2 linked regions of the Homo sapiens genome follow. The protein of the gene in region 1 interacts with the protein of each later gene in a pairwise test. Each region holds a gene or a part of one and is shown on either strand. Other genes may lie near its edges.

Region 1 (3,821 bases):
CTGTTGAACATATTTTAGAAATTCTTTGTTTTAGCCAAAGCAGGTGGGAGGCTTGATGGATCAATGTGATTGTGAACAACATATGAGAATATATTATGTTTCTCTTCATGAAATATCTAACTCAATTCTGAGGCCAGTCATGAACATACTGGAGGGACATAGAGTGACAGAAAAACTTCTTTAGCTCTAGTTTATAGCAGAAGTCACCATCTGTAAGAGCTTAGGGTCCTTGGAGGCACCTCTCTGAATCTGAAATGACCCCCTAGCATGTGTCTGGTGGTATTGTCAGCCAGTGGAAATGGAGGCCAGGTGGGTGAGCACCCTGGTTCCCTTGATCACCCTTCCTTGGTGCAGGATGTAACCAAAGTGGAATTGTCAAATAGTCCTCTTGTGGGTGGTGCCCAGTTCATCAAGCTGCACCATTCTACTCAGCAATGAGGAGTGACAGAGCTTGCAAGCCAATGTGAGCCTATCACAGGCTGTATAATGCCTGAAAGATGCCCTTTTGGAATAATTCCTTGACAGAAGTGACATTAACTACAAATATTACATTACCAGATCGTCACACTAAGCAGAAAGGAATAACCTGCATTGGAATAAGGATTTGGAATTAATTCAGTGAACACTGCAGCTTGATCATAGCTTCAGATATCTCTGCCTTATCATTAGCAGCATTCTTTATTCCCCCCGGGCTCTGACTCCAAACACAAGATGCACACTTGACTTCCTTTTCAGTGAGAGCTATTCAAACCCCAGCGGTTCTCCACTTATTACACATATTATTACTTTGCTCAGTGTGTCTCCCCATACCCAATGCCTTCGAATTGATGACCCGGTCAACTCTGTGGTCAGAAAGTTAATGTACCAGGTCAGGTTTCCCTTCTCTGTTCTCTCTTGCACCTCAGTTGTATCTCCTTGCTAGCCCTTGTCACAGGGCTGTTACACATTGCCCCATGTGTAACACGGAACAATGAGCTCTTTGAGTGTGAGGACTCTGCCTTGTATCAGCATGGCCAGCACCCCACATGATTGTAGCTTCTAGTGAACATTCAACACTCAGGGAAAGAATGAATTGGCTGCAGTTACCCATGAGACCCTCAGTTCCTTTGCTCTGCCTGAAACATAGACAGGATGGTGGACCTCCTCAGGCTCAAGCCTCATTTTCTGCAACAGAAAGTGCCCCCAAGTATACATTTGTTTTGGCGTTTAATAGGCATCTGTACAGTACAAATGTATTCCTTTTTAAAATCAGTGTCCTTCTCTCAGGTAGCTAACCTTCTCCGCATTGGCCTGAATCTCAGATTGCAGAGGAGCTGTGAGACTTTGGGAGGTGGGCAGCACAGAGCCAGGCTGAAAGCATCACAATCAGTGGTACCAGTGGGTCATTCACTGGACAGGGATGCCTGGGTGACCAGTGGGTTGTTGTCTTAGCTCAGTGTCCTTGGAATCAAAAACATCTGGACATGTGTCTGATCAAGGGTGAGATGAGCCCTAGGATTTTTCCAAATATTATTGGATTAAAGCATTTTTATTAATTTGCATAAATGAGATTCCTCAAGCAAACCCCCTAACAACCATTGTTAATTTGCTAAGCCCTGCTGCAATTGCCAGAACTCCTGGAGTGTGTAAGGAAAATGTGCATTGTGCAGTTTGCAGTGCATCAAATCCTGTGCTAAAGTTATGTGACTTTTATATCAATTTGGGGAGACTCATTTTTCCTCACTATAATTTACAGACCTCTTTTCATTGGCTGGGAATGCAATTTGCCAAATGGATTACATTTGGTACTTTATTTTCTCTTCATAGCTAGTTCTTCTGTAATTTATTTACAGTTCATCAGCCTCAATGGATGGGTTGTAAATCAGCAGGCAGCTCTCTCAGTTAAATGGTCAGGCTGCTGTGGAAGTGTGTAGGGGGGTGCAGTGGGGAGGGCCCTTTAACTCATTGTGTTCTGAGCTCTGTTTCTGTCTGCTGAGGTGGCTGTCCCTATTGAAGACATGCAGAGGATCCATCTGCGATTCATGTTTCGACATCGGTCATCTCTGGAATGTGAGTACCATACTGAATGGCATCTCTGCACCTCCCCCTAAGGGGAGAAGAATGGAAGAGCTGGGTGGCCCATGTATCATTTTCTTTCCTGACCCCACAATGCTATTTCCAGCTAAAGATAAAGGAGAAAAGAACTTTGCCATGTCCTATGTGAAGCTGATGAAAGAAGATGGGACTACTCTACACGATGGATTCCATGACTTAGTTGTCCTCAAGGTACCATGAGTTGGAAGGAGCTCTGCACTGAGGGGAGTGCAGGAAGAAAGGGGGTGATGGCAAAATTGCTTAGTGGTCAACAGCAGGGACCCCAGAATCACACACACCAGAGTTTACCAACTTTGTGGCCTCTTATAAACTCTTGACTTCTCTGGGCCTCTGTTTCCTCATCTTTGTGCCCTCAGTGAATATTTGTGAAAATTATGAGACAGTGGATGTAAACATAGCAATGATGAGTACATGGAAGAACTCAATACATGGAAAAGGTTATTGTTATTTACAGAAAGGTTATTGTTAATGACTGTTATATACTCTTGACTCTGTAGGGACCTCTGTGGCATGTGTAGAGGATGTACAATAAACATTTGAGAGATGCTGCATTGTAGCTAATGGGAAAATATTAAAACCTGCAGTCCTGATCCTGCTGCTGACTAAGCCTGGACTCATCTCACATATTTTCCTGAGTCTCAGTTTCTTTTTTCTTAAGCAGTTGTGGCAATATTTATGACAACCCACTAGGATGACCCATGAAAAATGGCCATCTAAACTATAAAGGGAGTGCAGATGTCCACTATTTTTATTTTTACATTATGAGACTTGGACTGTTTTTGAGACATGGAGGAGCATTTGTCTGGTTTTTACCTGCTGCTTTTCCACATGTCCTCTTATGACAACAGAATGCATCTACTAGCACCTGGCTGGAGGCAAGTGTATGGCTGTGAGGTGGAGCAAGGTTGAGTAGCCAGCACATGGATCACACCCTTGCCCTTGGCTTTCTTAGCCTTGTAGGCTGAAATTGCCCTTTTGCCTGTGGGATGCATGGCAAACACAGCCTCGTCAAGGCTTCATCTCATAGTACTCTTGTACTCTTCTCTGAGTCTCTCTGACTTTTCCAGAAAACCCCCTTTCTTCTGTACAGCCTCTGTTTTCTCATTTATCACACATAGAATTCTTGGCTTGAAAGCCCTTCTTCCCTGACAGAATGTGAACTCCTTGGGGTCAGAGGCCTAGTTGCAGTCAATTTTCTTTTACTTACCCCCATTAGGTCCCAGTTTCCTTGACTGAGGATAATAACAGTGTCTGCTTCATATGTTTGTTATGAGGCTTAAATGAAATGAACCAAGACATATAAAACACTTGGTTTCACTCCTGGTGCGGAGTAAGATAAATGTTATCTTCTGTAATGCCTACCTCTAGTCATTCATTTTAACATGCCACTCATTTATGTGTGTATCACTCTGCTATGTATTCTATATGCATTATTCCATATTATCTGCTCAGGTATTCTAGGAAGTAGGGATGATGATTGTCTTCAGTTTACTAATGAAAAAAAAAATGAGACACAAAGAGGCAAAATAGTGTATTCAAGATAGCATAGACCTGTGAATGGCAAAACAGGGTCCAGATCCCAGCACACTCTTACTTAGTGCCTTTGCCATTAAATTCCTCTTTAAGCTAGAGTCCTTATTTTGCTGGTGAGCAGATATTATGGTCTCAAAAAAAGGATGAATTAAAATGTACTGTCTGGGAATTTTCAATTCCGTTTTTATTTTGCC
Region 2 (3,821 bases), on another chromosome or scaffold:
TTGGGGACAGGAAAATTGATAGGACAATCTGCAATACCTGGAGACATCTGGGGTTGTCACAAACGACTAATGTACTGGCATTAGTGAACAGAGGCCAGGGAAGGCAGTAAACATTCGACAGTACACAGGACAGCCCTTACAACAAAGGATTATCCAGCCCGAAATGTCAATAGCACTGAGGCTGACACTGCCTGAAATAATGGGTCAGTAAAATGGCCAACAGCCTACAAGTAGAAAAAGAACCGTACAAGTAGCCTCAGCATCGCCCAAAGGAGAAACCATCACGGTCAAAGGACTCCAGTCTCTGGTTTTCTTAGTTGGTATGAATCTATCAACAAGAGAATTAGCAAAAGTTATGAGGAGCTGGAAAACACTGTCAAGTATATTCCCCTTCCAACTGGTTCCTTCCCAGGTGGTTCCATGCTTTTGCCTTCACCATGACTCATCCACAGAGGAAAAATGTTGGCTAAAGAATAAACGCCCATTCTTCTTGGCAAATACTGTTCTCATTTTTTATTAATAAATTGCATTCTAGCTCATATGCTTCAATATCATGAGGTTGGCTGATGGACATACTGTCCCTGAGAGAAGAATCCATTGACTCTCAAAACTAAGGTCAACTTTAGAATGAGATACCCAAAGAGAGGGATTGACTCTGAAGAACTAGGACTCAGTGGCAGCATTGACATCCCTGGATACCATGGCAACCCAGGGCACATCCATCTGCAGGACATACAGGAGTGAAGAGCCTCTCTGGACACCACTGCAGCATAGCTCCACATGGCATCCTGGCCTCAGAGGCTGGCAAGTCCAGTGAACCAACAAAAGAAGGAACTAACCAGTGCAGACATCATGGTGCAGGAGAAAGAAACAACGCAGTAAAACGAGTCAGAAAAGTTGGGTTTAAGGCTCAGATGCACTCTCTAAGTATGCTTGTGACATTTCATTCCTCCAAGCCACATCTGTAAAATGGGATAACAATACTATTCTGACTGTTCTCCATCATTTCCAAAACAGCATCCCCAGAGGAAGGGTGTGTCAGGCCACAGAGAAAAATGTCGCATTGATCCTATGACTCCACCTCCACTGAGAGAATGCTTTATAGGGCTTACCTGATTTTCATTCCCTCAAACCACCATTCCCTATCCAGAGTACAACCCACTGAACACATCTCAGTCCTTAGTCCAGCAAGTTGTGCCTCTCCAGTGTTTTCTACTGAGGAAAGTTTTGTTTTCTACCTTAACTGTTAGAACTAAAACAGTCAAAACTGTAGCCTCAATTCCTAAAATTGAAGTTCCAATAATAATTCTGTTCAGATTCTGGAAATCAGTGTTTGTGGGGGCCCGGAACACTGAGAATCGTCTCCTTCTATTTATACATGTGACTAATTTCTCGACTCAGCACTATGCCAGTTTGTTACTGTAGTTAATTCTGTTTGATGAGCTAGCATTCCTTCTCCCACACGTATTCCTATCTGATACTTAACTGTTCACCCCACCTTAGGCCAATGACCAAATTCTGCTCGTACCGTACCTGCACTTATATTGTAACAGGTTAGAAAATACAGCACTAAGACACAAGTAGTTAATGTAATCAGGAATCATGATATGGCTTTGCAGGCTTTAGTTCTGGCTAATATAGATAAGTTCCAATTGTTAACACTCAAACAACCCAAATTATCCAGGGAAATAAGCATTGCAACCAGTGTGTGCATTGTACATGCAGGCTGGCTTTGCTGAACCTAAAAATGCTGTGCTGGCATACTGGAAGGCTTTCATGGCCACACACATGGTCCTGGGAGCCACACCCTGTGGAATGACTGGCCTTCATGATCCTTTTATTATGGACAGTGCAGAAGTTCTCAGACTCTTTTTTTAAAGAGATGGGGTCTTTTTCTGTCCCCCAACCTGGAGCACCGTGGTGAGATCACAGCTCACTGCAGCCTCAGACTCCTGGACTCAAGCCATTCTCTTGCCTCAGCCTACCAAGTAGCTGGGACTACAGGTGCATGCCATCATACCCAGCTAATTTTTTAACTTTTGAGAGATGTGGTCTCGCTATGTTGCCCAGGCTGAGTTGTCAGCCTTTGACTTTCTTCTTTGGATAGCCAATCCAAGCCCAGGTCAGCTAAAATGCTTCACCTAATCATGCATCCCAGCAGTGTGGCTGCCTCCAGAAGAGATTACAACTGTCTTTGTAATTAGAATCATTCATGTGGGGAACACTAGATGTAAAATATGAAAGGAGAAGTTGAGCAGAGTAAATTTCCAAAGACCTCAAAAGTTCTAAACTAAAACTTGGTGAGAAAAGGGGATAGTCTGTCGATTTTATTCTAAGTAAGGTTAAAGAGTTATTGCAAAGGGAGCTACTGCCTTTCTGCATCACTAAAGTGAAAAGCATGTCACTTGAGTTTCTAGTTCCTCCAAGATGGCAGCATGAGGGCCTAGCGCACTGGCAAGTTCTACAAATAGTGGCATTTTTTTTTTTGAGATGGAGTCTTGCTCTGTCGCCCAGGCTGGAGTGCAGTGGCGCAATCTCAGCTCACTGTAAGCTCTGCCTCCCGGGTTCACTCAATTCTCCTACCTCAGCCTCCAGAGCAGCTGGGACTACAGGCACCCACTACCACGCCCGGCTAATTTTTTTTGTATTTTCAATAGAGACGGGGTTTCACCGCCTTAGCCAGGATGGTCTGGATCTCCTGACCTCGCAATCCACCCGCCTCGGACTCCCAAAGTGCTGGGATTAGAGGCGTGAGCCACCGCGCCCGGCCAATAGTAGCATTTTGAAAAGTTAAGTCAATAGCCGACAGAACTGCATCTGGTTCAACATTTGGAAATAGCATCTCCTGCAGGGGGTTAAACCAACAGTATTTTGTTAAAAGGAGATAGCTAAGTATTTCTTGTAGCCCTCTAGAACGTCGTCATCAGAATCCCTGGCAAGTTGGTTAAAAATGTAGTTTTCCCCAGAATTATTGAAACAGGCTTTTTAAAATCGTTACCTACACTGAGCAATACTTTGACATTAAGACTGGGTGTCTGTTTTATGAAATGCTGTTTTCCACACCACTCTTCTCTTTCACATTTTAAACTGCTGGTCTTGGCCTACTAAAGTGATATCATGATCCGCTCATGGGTTACAGCCGTAAGCTTAAAAAGCACTTCTCTGGTTGACTAGAAGGAACCAGAACTAAAGTTGCACAATTAGTAGCAAACACTCCAGGCTTTGTGATGCAGAGAGGGTTTCTTAATCCACCACGTTTTCCAGATTCAACAGAATGTCTTATAAACCAAACTATCTACTTGGATGGTTTCAGGCACCAAAAAGTGGTTACAAGCTTGAGTTACAAACCTTAATTGTATCCACTGTCTTAGATCTGGAAGGGAAATGTTACCTCCATAGGAATGATCACCTTTAACCCTTGAGCATTAGGCAACCTGATGAAGTAAGCACAGTGTGTGATCAGGTGAGCTCCTTGCCTCACCCCCAGCCACATCCTTCAGCAAAGGCTTCAAAGCCCTTTCCCCACCCGCCCCACCCACTCACACCAAACACCCAAAGGGGTTAAATTACTTTGAAACACTCAAGAGTTAGCTTCTTTTCAATATAGTAATTTAGTAAATGTTCAAGACTTAGCTGCACCTGCAGAACACCTTAATGTTTTCTCACTTTTATTTTTCTTCTCCTAGGCATTTCTCATCTCCCCTGCATCTGCCACACAGCCTCCCTTACAGCCTCCTGTCTTCACTTCCATATTGTAGGAGAGCAGAATGGGACACAGTAGATGCCTCTGACTTCAATCCCCTTACAATCATGCCCTTCCT

The links.
Region 2: the proteins of DOCK2 (region 1) and ELMO1 interact in a two-hybrid assay, tested with the Homo sapiens proteins (one study listed by BioGRID).

The regions. Positions count from the first base shown.
Region 1 is NC_000005.10:169,709,959-169,713,779, forward strand, and holds part of DOCK2 (dedicator of cytokinesis protein 2), read left to right. Parts: intron 1-1,976; coding exon 1,977-2,049; intron 2,050-2,161; coding exon 2,162-2,265; intron 2,266-3,821. UniProt on the Homo sapiens protein: Involved in cytoskeletal rearrangements required for lymphocyte migration in response of chemokines. Activates RAC1 and RAC2, but not CDC42, by functioning as a guanine nucleotide exchange factor (GEF), which exchanges bound GDP for free GTP.
Region 2 is NC_000007.14:37,442,044-37,445,864, forward strand, and holds part of ELMO1 (engulfment and cell motility protein 1), read right to left. Parts: intron 1-3,821. UniProt on the Homo sapiens protein: Involved in cytoskeletal rearrangements required for phagocytosis of apoptotic cells and cell motility. Acts in association with DOCK1 and CRK. Was initially proposed to be required in complex with DOCK1 to activate Rac Rho small GTPases.